Linked DNA regions of Homo sapiens: region 1 is linked to region 2. A link means that fine-mapping ties the variant in region 2 to the expression of a gene that starts in the linked region. Tissue or cell type: whole blood. Region 2 holds a variant in brackets; the other region holds the start of a gene. All regions are shown on one strand. Distances are between the middles of the regions. Region 1 holds the start of WWP1 (WW domain containing E3 ubiquitin protein ligase 1). Region 2 has its middle 21 kb from the start of WWP1.

Region 1 (8,418 bases), 22 kb before region 2:
TGACAAGTTTACCTCTACACGGTACAAAAGTTTAACACATTCCAAACAGGTAAATTCAAATCCTTCACATACAGCTCTTAACTAATGATGTTCCATTGTACATGAAGAGTAAGAAGTCTGGTGGGAAAAGAATACTGACATAGGAACAAAAATAAGGGTTTTAGTTGTAGTTCTAATTGTGGCCACTAACTAGCCACATACTTTGGAAATTTAACTTTTTAAACTTTTTTTTTAGCCTCAGCATATTCATCCAAAAAGCAATGATTGGCTGGAAGCGATGGCTCACGCCTGTAATTCCAGCACTTTGGAAGGCCATGGTGGGAGGGCCACGAGTCCAGGAGTTCGAGGCCAGCCTGAGGAAACACAGCAAGACCCCATCTCTATAAAAAATTTTAAAAATTTAGCTGGGTGTCATGACATACACCTGTAGTCCCAAGTACTTGGGAGGCTGAGGTCTAGGCTTCAGTTTAGCCATGACTGTGCCACTGAACTCCAGCCTGGGCAACAGAGCAAGACCCTGTCTCAAAAATAAATAAATAAAATAAAATAAAATAAAATATAAAGCAGTTATTACTTCCTAACACACCAACTTATCAGTTGTCATGAGAACCAAATGATAAATATAGTTATTATTTACAAATGTGAAATGCTATACTAACATAAGGTATAGTACAATTCTTAATGCCAGCAAAAACAATAAAATTCATCTGTGTATGTTTTTATCATTTTTCCTCCATTAAGTATTAGTAACTAGTTCCTTGGATACCACTATAAAGGGCAATTTATTGGATTTTCCAATGCTCATTATAATTGTATCATATTTTTATACAAAGAGTAAAAAACAACAGTCTTTCTAATAATTATGAAATCAAAGTTTATTAACATGTAATAACATGCTATGATTACCTATTACCAGGGAGATAATCTTACAGGTGCAGAAAAGTCAACTGTTTACCAATCGCACTACACTTTAACCGTACTAGCTAGCTACTTAATCCACCCAAAAAAAATTGAGTAGGAATCTTCATTTACATTGTGAAGTCTCCATTTTTATTTGATAAAGGCTTCCTGAAAGAAAAGAATATTCTGAAGGTATAAATGAACAGAGAAGATAAAGTTCTTTTTTTTTGAGACAGAGTCTCGCTCTGTTGCCCAGGCTGGAGTGTAGTGGCGCAATCTCGGCTCACTACAAGCTCCGCCTCCCGGGTTCACACCATCCTCCTGCCTCAGCCTCCCAATAAAGTTCTTAAAGTTTCTTATTTCACTTACATCACCTCTCTCCTCCCTACTCCCCAGCCCAAAGTGAGACATACAAAGAAAGTAACAATCCAAATGAATGATCTGATATTGCTAACTGCTCTTCTCTACCCAATTCATCCCTCAGACTCACCAGCTCTCATGCACATATTAAACAAGGAGAGTAGATACTCTGATGAAAGTCTAGGACTCGAGAATCACAAAATGTTAAAAACTAGAAGGAATCTTGTGGGATCATCTAGTCTTACTGACAAGGTCATTTAAAGGCAGTAACTATATTTAATTGATGGTAAAGCCACTGCATTATCTTCATACATGAAAGAACACCATCATTGTCAACAATCTCCTGATTCCACTTTACCCACCAGCTGAATGATGCTTCAGGCAAATCATTTAAACTCCAGGAATAGTTTATTGTGTAATATAATAGCAAATAACATTAGTCAAAATTCTCTGTAAACTGTAAACCACAACACAAATGTAATATTGTGTTTCTGTATATATACAGCATATCTCTACAGTAAGAGTTCTTATCAGTACACAGAAGAACCTGAAGGTTCTACTGTTTTAAAAAGCTCCCAGTAGGCCCGGCAGGGTGGCTTACGCTGTAATCCCAGCACTTAGGAAGGCCAAGGCAAGCTGATCACTTGAGCTCAGGAGTTCAACACGAGCCTGGGCAAAATAGTGAGACCCCATCTCTAAAAAAAAAATACAAAAATTAGCCGGGTGTGGTGGCAAGCGCCTGTAGTTCAAGCTATTCGGGAGACTGAGGCAGGAGAATCTCTTGAGCCTGGGAGGCGGAGGTTGCAATGAGCCCAGAAGGCGCCACTGCACTCCAGCCACAGGGACAGGAGTGAAAGAAATCCTGCCTCGAAAATAAAAAAAGCTCCAAGAAATTCTGAGATGAGTGTCATGGATGACTTTCAGGTGTTCCATGGACTCCCCTAAAATTATATCCACAAAGCATAGGCGCATATGGAAATTTTCCAGGCCAGCATTTTACCAAGAATTAGTAATCTCCAAAAAGTTGTAAAGTAGCACACATATGCTGAGGGTAAAGCTTCATGATCTTGCTCAAAATGGTACCACTGTTCTCCCAACCAACCTGGATCAGAATCAGTTATTTTTACTTTCATTTGCCCTCTCATCAAATTTTGGCTATTCGACTTCCTTTCTTCCTTTCCATTCGCGTGCACCACAGCTCAGATCCTCACTATCCATGACTACAACAACTGGGAGGTCTTTCTACCTCCAGGGTCTCCCTACCTCAGTTCACACTACAGACCTCTATCCCACTAATCCTTCTGAAACAAAGTGTTCAAATTGTTTCACTCCCAATTCAAAATCATCTGTGGAAGCCCCACCACCGGGTAAATCCAAGGTCATAAGTCTGGCATTAAAAACAACCCATAAACTGGTCCAAATTTTTACTTCAAGTTTTATCACCCTTTATCCTGGTACAAATAAGTTTATGTTCCACCCAAACATAATTACCTGCCTTTCCCCAAACAGGAACTCTGTGCTCTCTTAGAGATACCTCTCTGCTAGGATTACCTTTCCTGCCTATCCAAAGTCATAATCGTCCTTCAAAACCACGATTTCAGAAGCCAGGAGCTCTACAAACTAACCCTCTTATCCCTACCTTGCCAAGTAAGATCTGAGCTCTACTCTCTTTGAAGTTGACTTCTGAGAGGATTTTGGTACCATTTATGAAACTTATATATTAAAAGACAAATAAGGCATTTGTGTATAGCACTATCTACCTAATTAGTGTGAAGGCAGAAATTGCTAATCGGTTCATCTTTGTATTTCCCAAAATACCTCCCACAATTATGCAGTAAATGCTTAACAACTGTACAAGGAAGTAAAGGAAATTTCAGCCACCGTGGGGTAAACAGCAAAGATTACCATCTCTTTGAAGGCAGAAACTTTATCTGCGACATCCTGTATTATGCCGGTAGCTCATAATTATTGCTTTTCAAAACCCTGATGTAGATCTTACCAGCAGTTTCACATTTTAAGGTAAGAACTATCTGAAAATGTTGATAAGCTATGTCCCAAAGAACTATTCCACATACTTTACAATTCTCAATCTGAGTAGCTCCCAATACTTGGCCACTACACTTTCCATTTTTTAAAATACTAACCATTTATGAAAAATGATCATTTCTAGTTGCAGCTAATTTACTACTTGATGGCTAAAAACAAGTCACACAATAAAAGAACGACTTTCTTCTTTAAAAGGTGCATTTTGCTTGTATAATACACACAGATTTGGTGAGGCAGGTAAAGTGGATTTACACATAAACATGAACTCTTGTTAAAAAAAAAAAATGCAGGTAACTGTAAACCAACTATTTCAGGTAAAAACACCAAACGGGGAAAACAAAGATAATTTTGGACATGATTTTTTTTCCCACTACTATTACCAGTAACATTTTAAAGCAGAAACACAAAATCTTGTTCCACATTAACCTACACACACACAGAAAAAAATTTGTTAAACTTATCAAATAGAAAAAGAAGGCAAAATCAAGCCCCTGGAAAATATTTTATTCTGAAAGAGTAAAAATGTCAAAATTATAACAGACACTACTCTTCTTTGGTAATGAAGGTTTCATATATTTACCACAGCAGAGAAAACTCCAAATCGGCAGAGCAAAGAAAGGACTGTGAACAAGACTGATCATTTAAAGGTCGTAAAGGTAAGGAGCAAACTACAAAATTAAATTTTTTTAAAAAAAGAACACGAAGATGAAAGGAGAGTCTGTAAGTCACAGACAAGATAAGGACTGGTAAAATCTGCAAGGTCACTGGAACCTACCAGGTCACAAAAGGTGGAGGTGGGGGTTGCGCTGGGGGGGCGGGGGATGGGGAGCTGCAGAGTCGGTGAAGAACGGAGAGTGATAAAAACATGTCAGAAAAAGACGTTCCAAAGCTGGAGTCCTTGGTTTGCAACGCTGAAATTGGGGTGAAAGTCAGGGAACGGGCAATGAGTCCATGTATTTGTGTTTTCAGGGAGGTGTTAGGGAAAGGTGGAGGAAGGCGAAGAGAAGGCTAAGGAAGCCTAAGAACTGCGGCTGCAGAGTCACGGAAACACTTCGCTCCGCTCCAGGATCACTGGCACAGGCCTTTGCCAGGGCGAACTCCGGGCAAGACCCGTGACCCCACCCCAGAAAACTCCCGACTCCCGGGCTGGAGAAGGTAGCCAAGGTAGGGCGGACCGTCCCCCGACGGGTCCTAGGAGGGTCCAGCCCGGGGGCGGACGGCGCCGGGCGCCCAGCACCGCGGCCAAGGCTCAGGGCCCGTGCCCCCTCCCGCCCTGCCCATTCGCACCCCCAGCCCCGCGCCGCGCCGTCCTTACCCGGCGCGAAGCTGTCGGCTCCCGGCAGCCGGGCGGCCACGGCAGCGGCACCTCCTCCTGCGGCGGGCGCCCTCACCCTTCCGCGCCCAAGATCGCCATCTCGCAGCAGGCGCGGCGGCAGCAGCCACCCAGGCGTCGGCCCCGGCAGCCCAGGCCGCCAGCAGCCACTCGGAACCCGCACGCGGAGCTCGCCGACACCCGACCCTCCCCCCACCCCCACCCCGTCCACGCGCCACCCCCAGCCGACCCCACACCTCCCTTCCTCGGGAGCGCGCCGCGTGGCCGCGTCGCCGGCGCCGCGCCCTAAGCGCGCGCCTCCCCGCCGGCCCCGGCACCGCGCGCTACGCCGCGGCCGCCCAAAGCCTCCAACTCCGGACCCGGAATCCGCCTCCCCCGAGCATGCGCAGCGAGGGCGCTCGGATGCTGCCTTAGGAAAACTCCGCTCCTCCGGGTCTTCCGAGCAGTCTAGCGGAGGGGGACGGACAGCCAATAGTAGGGAGGGGCGGGGCCTGAACGTGTGGAAGGGGCGGGGCCGCCGCTGAGATTTGGGAAGAGGCTGCTCTAAGCTCGCGCTGGGCACTGCTAATTTGACTTTCCGGTCGGCGGCTGATCCCGGAGCAGGACTTCTTAAGGTCCGGGGGCAAAAGTAGGCTGTCCATAAATACTCCTTGACCTAGCTGGGTGACCTCGAACACATTGCAAGAGTAAATAATTGCATTTAGCCATTGGTCATACCCGAAGACTTTCAGTCCATTTTTTATTAATCAAAACGTTCATCTGTGGAAGCCCCACCACCTAGTCCTCACTCACATCAGCCCGGTGATAAAGCAGATACTTATTGACCGAGTATACGTGTCCGCACAATTAACGCACACAACAATCTGACAAAGTAGTGTCTACTGTCTGCATTTTACAGAAAAGTCAACTAGTTTAGAAAAGTACTGTTGGTTATGTGTATTGCTTTTAGAAGAAAGGCCAATGTGCAAATAGAAGTCAGTGGGACCACATTGCTTACCAGGTGACCCGGTTTCTACTTCAGAGAAGCAGAAGCCTTCAGGCATGGATTTCTACAGCTTTTGCCCAACCACCTGACCAACCCCCATAGATTATATCTACGTCCACACCCAGACTTACTAGTTTTCCTTCTATCTCGGAGGCTAGATGTCCCTGCTCCTCTCCACTGCCTGCTCCCCACTGTGGGCGGTCCTTGGCACATCTTTAACTTCACCCTCTCCACTGCCTACAACTCCTCAGCATAATCACGTTTTAAGATTAGGTCCTAAATTTTCCCTTGATTTTAAAACCTCTGGTTCTCTCTCCCCTTCCATTTTAACTGAGCTTTTTGAAAGAACTGTGTACCAAAAACAACCCCAACACTTCATGAGTGTGTACAGAATTCAACAAGTATCTCTTGACTGAACAATGCACATTCCCGCCTACCTCCATGCATTAGTTCTTGTCCTCTGGCTTCATAGTTGAAATTGGTGCACATTATATCCACAAAGATCATTCGAAAATATACATCTGTGTCATTCCACTGCTTAAAATCATTCTTTGGCTTTTCGGAGCTCTCCTGACAAAGATTAACGTGATATTCAAGGTTCCTTTGATGCTCACATGCTCTATCTCTCCTGTTATGAAAAACTCTTCACAGTGCCCCATATGTGCCCACTCATCTCTGCTTTAAACATGTACTAAGATTTTCTTCATCTTTTTGCTTTTGCTGTCTGGTCCCTTTAAATAGATGCAATAATGTGCTTACAAACACGTCCTCAGAAATTCCGTAGGTATTCCCCAGCAGGGATCTGGACTCCTTCTCCAGAATGCATGCAGGCCTCCTCTTCCTGCTCTGTGTCTCACTTTCAGCTCCCCTCATTGCTCAATTTCCTCCCCGTTCAGAAGCTCTTAGTACTCACCTAGTCCTCAAGCTGACACCCAATATTGAACCAGCCTTTTGTTATTGACTGTTTGGTTTCAAATGAACAATATTATAAATAGTATTCCATAACCATTGTTCATGTCCTTATTAACTGTCTTAGATAAATTATTAAAAGTAATAAAAAAGTATGAACAAGTTTAGCCCTTTTGAAACATATTGGCAACTACCTTCCAGAAAGAGCATAGGCTCAGGTATCACATCGCCCAGCATCAAAACACAGCTCTGCCACCCAGTGCCACATTCTGACTTTCACAGGCCCTAGGTGCTTATACCTGTGTGGGCCTCATCTTCCATAAAATAATACTACAAAATATATTTTATTACTGCATTGGTATGAAGAAAAAGATATTAACATTATACATTAAAATATTTTCTTTGACCTAAATATTCAATTTTTTGCCTTCTGATTTTAAAAGAAATTAAAACATTTTTATGGGCCCCCGAAAGTGTTATAAGCCTGAGGCACTGTGTCTACTGTGCCTAATGGATAACCTGACCCTCCTGCTGCCTATGAGCTGAGAGATTTGGCCAATTGCTTAATCTAATTGTGTCTCAACTAGAAAATTAATATAGTGCTTCCACATGTTGTATTAAAAAATATATATAAATTGCTATAAATAACACGCATAGAGCTACTTAACACATGAGCATGGCACATAATCAAGAAATGATTGTCATAATGGTTATCAATTTTCCCACAACACTACATGACAGTATGTGATTGTCCTTCTTCCATGTGCCCAAATCATCATGGTATGTTTTCATATGTGTATGTATGGTAGCTTATTGTTTGTCCTTTGTCCATTTTCTTACTGAGGTATTTCACAAAAGGGTGCTTCACACAATGTAGATATTAGTCCTTTGTAAAACTATTGATCTTTTCCATTTTTGTATTCTTCCATTGTTTTTTACTTCATACATCTTTCCCATCCTGAGATCATATAATTCATCTGTCTTTACTTTTTTCTACTTGTTTGACTATTTTACTTTTTTCATTAAATAATTTAATTTTCTTGGATTTATTTTGCAATGATAATCTAACTTTTATTCCTTTAAAAATAGCTCATGGTATTCCCCCAAACCATTTGTTTAAAAAATTGTTCTCTAACTGTAGTGGTTTTAAAATAGGTCTACAGGCCGGGCACTGTGGCTCACACCTGTAATCCCAACACTTTGAGAGCCCAAAGCAGGTGGATCACTTAAGGCCAGGTGTTTGATACCGGCCTGACCAACATGACAAACCCTGTGATATGGTTTGGCTGTGTCCCCACGCAAATCTCATCTTTTTTTTTTTTTTTTTGAGATGGAGTATTGCTCTGTCATCCAGGCTGGAGTGCAGTGGTGTGATCTTGGCTCACTGCAACCTCCACTCCTGGGTTCAAGTGATTCTCTTGCCTCAGCCTCCCGAGTAGTTGGGATTACAGGCACATGCTACCACACCTAGCTAATTTTTTTTTTAATTTTTAGTAGAGACGGGGTTTCACCATGTTGGCCAGGCTGATCTTGAACTCCTGATCTCAAGTGACCCTCCTGCCTCGACCTCCCAAAGTGCTGTGATTACAGGCATGAGCCACCATCCCTAACCCTAATCTCGTCTTGAATTGTAGTTCCCATAATATCCACGTGTTGTGGGAGGGACCCAGTGTCAGGTAATTTAATCATGGGGGCGGTTACTCTCATGCTGTTCTGGTGATAGTGAGTGAGTTCTCACAAGATCTGATGGTTTTATAAGGGGCTTTTCCCCCTTTTGCTCAGCACTTCTCCTTGCTGCCACCATGTGAAGAAGGTTGTGCTTGCCTCCCCTTCTGCCATGATTGTAAGTTTCCTGAGGCCTCCCCAGCCATGCTGAACTATGAGT
Region 2 (8,254 bases):
TGAAAGATGAGTGATTAATTTTATTTATTTATTTATTTATTTATTTATTTATTTATTTATTTATTTTTGAGACAGAGTCTCACTCTGTCACCCAGGCTGGAGTGCAGTGGCACAATCTCAGATCACTGCAACCTCCGCCTCCTGGGTTTGAGTGACTCTTGTGCCTCAGCTTCGCAAGTAGCTGGGACTACAGGTGTCCACAACCATGCCCGGCTAATTTTTGTATTTTTGGTAGAGACAGGGTTTTGCCATGTTGGCCAGGCTGGTCTTGAACTCCTGGCCTCAAGTGATCTGTCCCTCTCAGCCTCCCAAAGTGCTGGGATTACAGCCATGAGCCACCGAACCTGGCCGAAAGATGAGTGATTTAGACAAGTAAAAGAGGGGCTTAGGTGGGAAAAGATTCCAGCAAGGAGTAATAGCATGAACAGTCACAGACTACACAGGAAACCATAGAACCTAGTGTGTCACTAGTAAGTATACTTGCCCAAATATTATCAAAGATCTAATAGGTATTTTTTGATCAGATATGCATTACTTTTTATAATAGAGTTTTGCTTTATTTTACATGTTAGGAAAATAATCTACGAACCTTCTAGTATCTTCTGAATTCCTGTAAGCTCCATGTGAACAGAGATCAAATTTATCTTATTCTCTCCTGCATTTTAGCACCCAGTACAATGTCTGGCCCTTTGTAGGGATTCAACATCTAGTTGTTAAGCAAATTACTAAATTATTGAGCTTGTTAGTCTTTGCCAAAGTCGAATATAAATTTAGCCTTTAAATTATTCTTTAAATTTACTTTTAAAGACTCATGTTCTTGAACAACTTGCCTTTCTCAAACTGTCTTCAATAAAGGATAGCTTGATACTCCCTTTTATAATTCTTCCTATTTGGGGACTCTTTTTAAAATGCAAGTTTTGGTGTTGTTTTTCTCCCTATACATCCATCTATTCGCTATTTATTCAGCATATGCTTATTAAATACTTGATTATGTGCTGGCATTGTGCTACACACCAGGAGTAGAATACTGATGAGTTAGACCTGGACTAGGCTCCACTGGAGCTTATAGCCCAGGGAAAAAAGCAGGCAGATATTCAACAAATAATTTACAAGCACATTGTTGTTGCAAAACAGAAGTGAATAGTTCTATGAGAGTTTGTAATAATTTCTTTTAGCCTTTATTCAGTATGAATTATTATCTGATCATTATATAACATGTTTACTTTATCAAGTTCTTAGCTTACATTCTCCACTTTCTGCCTTAGTATACAACATTTATAGCTAATGTGGGGCACAAAGTAAGTACACTATAAATATTACTTGAATGAAAGAATAATTACTTTCTCATACAATTTGCATTTTATCCTGTATTATTTTGATCCTGTTGAGTACAAACACCTGCACTCTTTGTGGTAAGACAAATATAAGAATTATTCCCTTGATATATCTGTCAACTGGATGAAATAATGGGAATAGTGTAGGTGATGTGTGTTGTCTAAAATTAGGTGTACAGCACTTCAGTAGAGCCTAGATCTATAGTCTATTGGCTTAATTTCTGTGTAAAGTGAGGTTATTAACCACATCTATTTGGTTATATGATTTTAATCAATAAGTATTCATTAAAAATCTATGTAAGTTTTGTAGCATATGCTGAGGGGCATTCAAAGAAGAATAAAACAAGGCTTCTGCCCTACAGAAATTCAATCTAAATGCCTGTGACAAAAGAAGAGAAATACTTTTTGCCTATTAGGGAGGAAAGTAAGCCCTGTAAGAAAAGACATTCTACAAGAAGTGATGGTTAATCTATAACAGTTCTTGAAGAATGAATAAGACTTTGCCAAATAGATGGTAAAGGGAAAGGCATGCTAGAGAGAAGACTTCAGTTCTTCATGCTAGGGAGCATGTGCAAGTGCAAGGAAGCCTGACTCCCCTTTCTAGCCTATCAACTATTTTTTCTTTTTATACTTTAAGTTCTGGATACGTGTGCAGAACGTGCAGGTTTGTTACATAGGTATACACATGCCATGGTGGTTTGCTGCGCCCATCAACCTGTCATCTACATTAGGTATTTAGGTATTTCTCATAATCCTATCCTTCCCCTAGCCTCCCACCCCCCAACAGGCCCCGGTGTATGATGCTCCCCTCCCTGTGTCCATGTGTTCTCATTGTTCAACTCTTACTTATGAGTGAGAACATGTGGTGCTTGGTTTTCTGTTCCTGTGTTAGTTTGCTGAGCAGAAATACCATCTGACCCAGCAATCCCATTACTGAGTATATACCCAAAGGATTATAAATCTTTTTACTATAAAGACACATGCACACGTATGTTTATTGCAGCACTGTTCACAATAGCAAAGACTTGGAACCAATCCAAATGCCCGTCAATGATAGACTGGATAAAGAAAATGTGGCACATATACACCATGGAATACTATGCAGCCATAAAAAAGGATAAATTCATGTTTTTTGCAGGGACATGGATGAAGCTGGAAACCATCAACTATTTTTTATTTACATTCTTGTTCACTATCGCTTCACAAGTTCTTGCTTTGTTATGCTAATTCTGTTAGATCAAGATTTACAAAATGTCTATCTTTAGCATGTCTTCAATTTAATTTCCTTTGGAAAGTGGACAAATTAGAACTACATTCTGTCCCAAAAATGAGCAATTCCAACATTCATATAAGTCAGAGGTGCCTGGGTGCGGTAGTTCACACCTGTAATCTCAGCACTTTAGGGGGCCAAGGTGGATGGATTGCTGGAGTCCAGGAGTTCAAGACCAGCCTGGGCAAAATGGCAAAACCTGTCTACCAAAAAAAAAAAAAAAAAAGCCAGGCATGGTAGCCCATGACTGTGGTCCCAACTACTTGGGAGACTGAGGCAGGAGGATTGCTTGAGCCCAGGAGGTCAAGGCTTCAGCAAACCATGATTGCTCCATTGCACTCCAGCCTGAGTGACAGAGCAAGACTGTCTCAAAAAAAAAAAAAAAAAAAAGAAAAAGGAAAAAAAAGAAAAAGTTAGAGGCATCAGAATCTTTATGGTAACTACCACCTATCACGCAGTTGGCCTGAAAAGAGTGGCCTCTTTGGTAGTTGTGGGTGGTGGCTAGACTTTACAGCTTCACTGGACCTGAATGCTGATCATTTGCTTCGTGTTCACCATCTAAGAAAATGTTCCCCCAACCACACACGTGGCTATTGTGTTTGTAGCACAGGATTACAAATTCTCCAGCCCCAATGGCTAGTCACAGGTAAGTGGAAAAACAACCCAAAGCTCACTTGACCCAATTAAATTCTCTTTCACAAGAATTCAAACTAAAAGCCATAGAGTTTGACTTAGTAATCAGTGGTGGGCTGGAGCTGTAACATCTGGTCGAGTCTGAACCAAATTGCTTCACAGCAGGGCAGGGGCTCACGTAAAGCTGAAGTTTACCCAGGAACTGAAATGACGACCCTGGTAAAAGAAGCCTGGCTACATGAAGCAGAATGAAATTCAAGTACAGAGGGATGCAGAAAAGAAATCATGTTTCCTGAAAGAAAAAAGCAGAGAAAGTAGCTTGTTTGAAGATTGTTTTCAACATTTATGAGGCCTAGTGGCAGCATTTACAGTTGGATTATGTGAGATTTCCATGTATCCTTCAAATAAATTCCCTTTTCATCTTGTCTATTGGAATGTCTTTCTCAACACCCCAGGCAAATGGTTTTGGAATGAGAAGCTGCTTAGCTATTTCAGGGAACCCTATACTCTTTGGTAGAATGACCACACCCTTGACATAACAGGTCTTAACTAGGTATTCCCATGGCTGCCTGTGCTTCCTCTACTCATGCCCACATGAATGCCTCTCAGACTGTTGACATTTTTTGTAATGCACTGAGTTTTTCTCTGCCAGTTAGCAGGCCCAGTGTTTAGATATCTTACTCAGGATGCCCTACCACCAAGTGTTCAAATAATAACATCTTAACTTCAGTTGGCAAAATATTCTGCATAGTACAGATTTAGAAGGCATTGCTGGAACATTTGTAAGAACAGACATGTTGGCCAAAATCGTTGTGCTGACACAAGGAAATCAAAAAACCAGGTTTATCATGGATGTCATCATT[G/A]TGGGGCATGTCAGCAGCATGTTCCATCCAACTCACAATAGCTAGGCAGAGTTAGGCCCTGTGTAGGATTAGGCAAGCTTGACTTGCAACAGAAAGCAACCAGTATAGTGTGGGGATGGCAGTAGAGAAAGAAGAGGAGGCTCAAAGTTAAATGGAATCTGATATCAACAACATTGAGACAATCAAGAAAAACAATCCAGCAGACCATAAATCAGTGCATGCTTGGAGGGAGCCATTATTTCAATCAAGGAGTGTCTGCTGAAAGAGGCCTATAATTTCATAGCAGCTCAGAGCTACTGGACAACATTCCTACTTCTGGCTCCTAAAGAGCCTTTTGTAGCCAAGGAGGTCTAGGACCAGTTAGAAGACTTCAGAGCTATCGTCCAATAAGGATGAATGCATTGTCTTCTAATTCTTATAGGGGGTCTGATGGGTCAGACCTCAGTGGAGCCAGTCTGGTACCTTGAAGAGGATTTCATTTTACTAAATGTCAAGGTCAGTCTCTGTTATATTACTCTGGTTTAATTTCTTCATGATACTTATCGTCATCTGAAAATTGTATTTATTTGCTTATTGTCTGTCTCCTGCCCCTTCCAGTAAAATGTAAATAAATTCCTTTAGAGCAGAGACTTTAATCTGGTTTTTCTCCCCCAGTGCTGTGTTCTCAGCATCTGGAACAATGTCTGGCTTTTCATATGTTCTCAGTAAATATTTATTGAATAAATAAACAAAAGTCCATGAACTTGGTGATACAGCCATGTACTTTGAACGGTATAAGAGTCCTGGAGATCCAGACAGTCCTTGATTAGAATGCCTACATTTTAAACATATCTGGAAAACAACTGTCCCTGACTTCCCACCCTGTCCCCACCCAAATTCTGCCCTCAATTCTGATATTGTAAATTTTCCGAGAATGAAAAATAACCGTTCTTTTGGTAAGAAGAATATGCTTGCTTCTATTGAACAAGCCTCAGCCACAACCACGTTCTCTCTCCAGCCATCTGCCGAGATGACACTTCAACTTCCTCACCCCACCCCCACCCCCATTTTGTCTCTTTCTTCTTGATAAACAAACTCCTCAGTTCTCACAGATAATAAAACATGTCTCCATCAGGGAAGTGTAAGTGAGCCTATTTTCAGGAAACAGCTGAGATTCCTCATGTACTTTGCTTTTTTGAAAAGCAGCCACTTGGCTCAATATGTATACAGCACTTGTTTACTAATTAACAAACAGCCTCCCGCTGAGTCAGTCTTCCTTCCTCTCCCAATTTCCTTTTCCATTCTTAGAAAATTGTTTGAGTGAATAAAAACTTGGTCCAGGCCAGGCGTGGCAGCTCAAGCCTCTAATCCCAACGTTGCGGGAGGCCGAGGTGGCAGGATCACTTAGCCCAGGAGTTCCAGACCAGCCAGGGCAGCATGATGTAACCCCGTCTCTACAAAAAATTAGCCAGGCTTAGTGGTCTGTAGTCCCAGCTACCCAGCCCTGGAGGCTGAGGTGGGAGGAATACTCTAGCCTGGAAGTCCAAATTGCAGTGAGTCGTGATTGCACCACTGCACTCCAGCCTGGGCAACAGAGTGAGACCCTGTCTCTAAAAAGGAAAAACGAAACAAAACAAAAACTTGGCCCAGTGTTTCTGAACATGTTATGTGACTACATTTATTATCATGGACACCACCATCCTTCAAATACATGTCTCTTTAGGTTGCATAATCAAAGTGAAAATAATATTCTATTAACAAAAGTAACTTTTGAAGACACTAAGAGGATGTATGCTTTATATGATGACTATGCACACAATCTCTTTCTTTGAAAGCAAGAAGAGTAAATTTTATTAAGTTGCAGGATAAAATAATCCGCTTTAAAATCCAGTAATAATATTTGCATTAATGGTTAATAATCATCAATAAACAAACAGATATTTATTGACCACCTGTTATAGACAGTGTACTGTAATCGTTAATCTGTATGATACAAAGAAACATAAATGTGTCCCCAGATTTATTAGATCTATTTGATAGGATAGGCTATATGTTTGTTACCAAAAAAAAAAAAAGTTAACAACAATAGAGTTTATAGGAATGAATGATGACTTCTGTCAAAAGTGGTCACTGAAGATTTCAGAGAGAAGATAGGATTTAGGATAGGCTTTGGAGATTAGGTAACAGGAAATTATAGTAAGAGCTACTTCTTGTAAACCCTGGGAAACTTGTGAAAAGATACAGCAGATTTGAGTTTTATCTATGCCCCAAATTTGGAAAGATTAGAGCTTGAGTTGGGAAGATATTTTGCAATTTAACATCCTTTAAAAATTGTTGTATCATAAAAATTACATATTTTCCCTCTGGAGATGTAATTTCTTTCAGTGATGTTTCAGTTACTATTGCTGTGTGATTGCACCAACATTTAGTAGCTTACAACACCATTCCTTATGGCCATGGATTCTGTGGGTCAGAAACAAGACCAGGGCTCAGGGGAGTGACTTGTCTCTGCTTCCCAATATCTGGAACTTCAACAAAGGAGACTTGAAAGCTGAGGGTGACCTGATCGCTGGAGTCTGGAATCACCTGGAGACAAATTGATGCTGGCTTTTCGGTGGGACCTTAATCCCTCCGGAATCACTTACCAAAGCATTTACACATAGCTTCTCCACTTGGCTTGGGCTTCCTCTTATTGTGACAGCCTCAGGTAGTTAGGCTTCTTCCACAGAAGCTCACCGGACTCCAAAGATAAGCATCCCAGCAACTAAGGCAGAAGCTATACTGCCTTTTCCCTCCTAGTCTCAAAAGTCAAGCTGCGTCACTTCTACAGTGTTGTTATAAGAGAATCACAAGTCCTACAACCAGGCCCCTCCTCATAACACTTTACTGTCCTCACCTTAATTCAGGTGAACTTTGTCCTTCATAGTGATGACGTCTTAGGCACTTACTAGTTTTTAATTTACATAAGCTATATTTTACATTCTTAACAAGCTCTCCTGGTGTCTTCCTTTTTCCTTGGTTTCTGTATCATTTTATTTTGGTTTTCTTCATGTTACTCTCTATTGTCTCCTGTTTGGTCTCATTTATGATCACGCTCCCTTCTTTTTTCAACCACCACTTCTGGGTGGATGTTCCTTGGGGCTTCATTTTTTTTTTCTGAAGACAGGGGCTCACTCCATCACCCAGGTTGTAGTGCAATGGTGCAATCACAGCTCACTGCAGCTTCGACTGGCTCAAGTGATCTTCCCATCTCACCTCAGTCTCCCAAGTAGTTGAGACCACAGGCACACACTACTCCTGGATAATTTTTTTTTTATTATTTATAGAGATGAGGTTCCCCTATGTTGCCCAGGCTGGTCTTGAACTCCTGGGCTCAAGTCATCCTCCTGCCTTGGCCTCCTTGGGGCTCCATTTTAAATTCTCTTCATCTTATAAACTCTTTAGAGCTTTAATTCTTTCTTTCCTATAACCCCTTTCCTGATAAATTAGTTCCATATATTTATTTCCACAACCACCTTGATCACTGGTAGTCTCCACTTACAAACTGTATGTTGAACCCTGTGTGCTCCTGGGTTTCAGATTCATATTTCCAAAAGCCAATTTGATATCTGTATAAGTCCTCCAGGAACCTCTACCTTCTCTCAAAGTTTAAACTCTCAAAGTTTAAAGTTTTTCCTTCTCCAGCTAGAACTATATCACTAATGACTGCTGTGGCAACCATTTTGATGACCACATCAGTTTAATTACTTTGATAAACTATTGTCACCTTGCAAATCCTCTTTGAAATGAAAAATTCATAAAAGGACTGCTAAAACTAAGAAAGCAGTTTTAAGTTTTAGTGGGCTTTATAATTTTCCATCTCTTTGAAAAAACAACATTAGTTCTATGGTATTGGAAGAAGATATTCAGAACTCCATTATGAAGAATTATTTATGACTCAACTAATTGTAAAACATACCATGATAATGTGGTCTAGGTCCAATTTTCCAGTGTATTGGTGTGTATCATATATAAGCCCTGCCCAATATGAGGTTTCTTTAGTTCAGTGTAAAAATATTTTCTCATTAGAGAGAGAAGATGGTTCCTGAAGCAGTTAGGCAAAAGTCATTACTAGTCTCTTGTCAAGATGATTCATTTTTATTTTTATGCATCTATTCATGCATAAAGGTGAGATT

What was found.
Region 1: it holds the start of WWP1, and the variant in region 2 is fine-mapped to the expression of WWP1 in whole blood (INTERVAL, PIP 0.92).

The regions. Positions count from the first base shown.
Region 1 is chr8:86,339,134-86,347,551 of GRCh38, reverse strand. It overlaps WWP1 (WW domain containing E3 ubiquitin protein ligase 1), which reads right to left and starts at 5,005. Exons shown (of 25, transcript NM_007013.4): 1 at 4,622-5,005. It overlaps WWP1-AS1 (WWP1 antisense RNA 1), which reads left to right and starts at 3,118. Exons shown (of 6, transcript XR_007060994.1): 1 at 3,118-3,279; 2 at 3,892-3,962; 3 at 4,276-4,470. RefSeq lists a silencer at 4,455-4,914.
Region 2 is chr8:86,317,403-86,325,656 of GRCh38, reverse strand. No RefSeq gene overlaps it. Among named protein-coding and RNA genes, the nearest start is that of WWP1, 21 kb to the left of the region's middle. The variant G/A (reference allele first, on the strand shown) is at 4,101.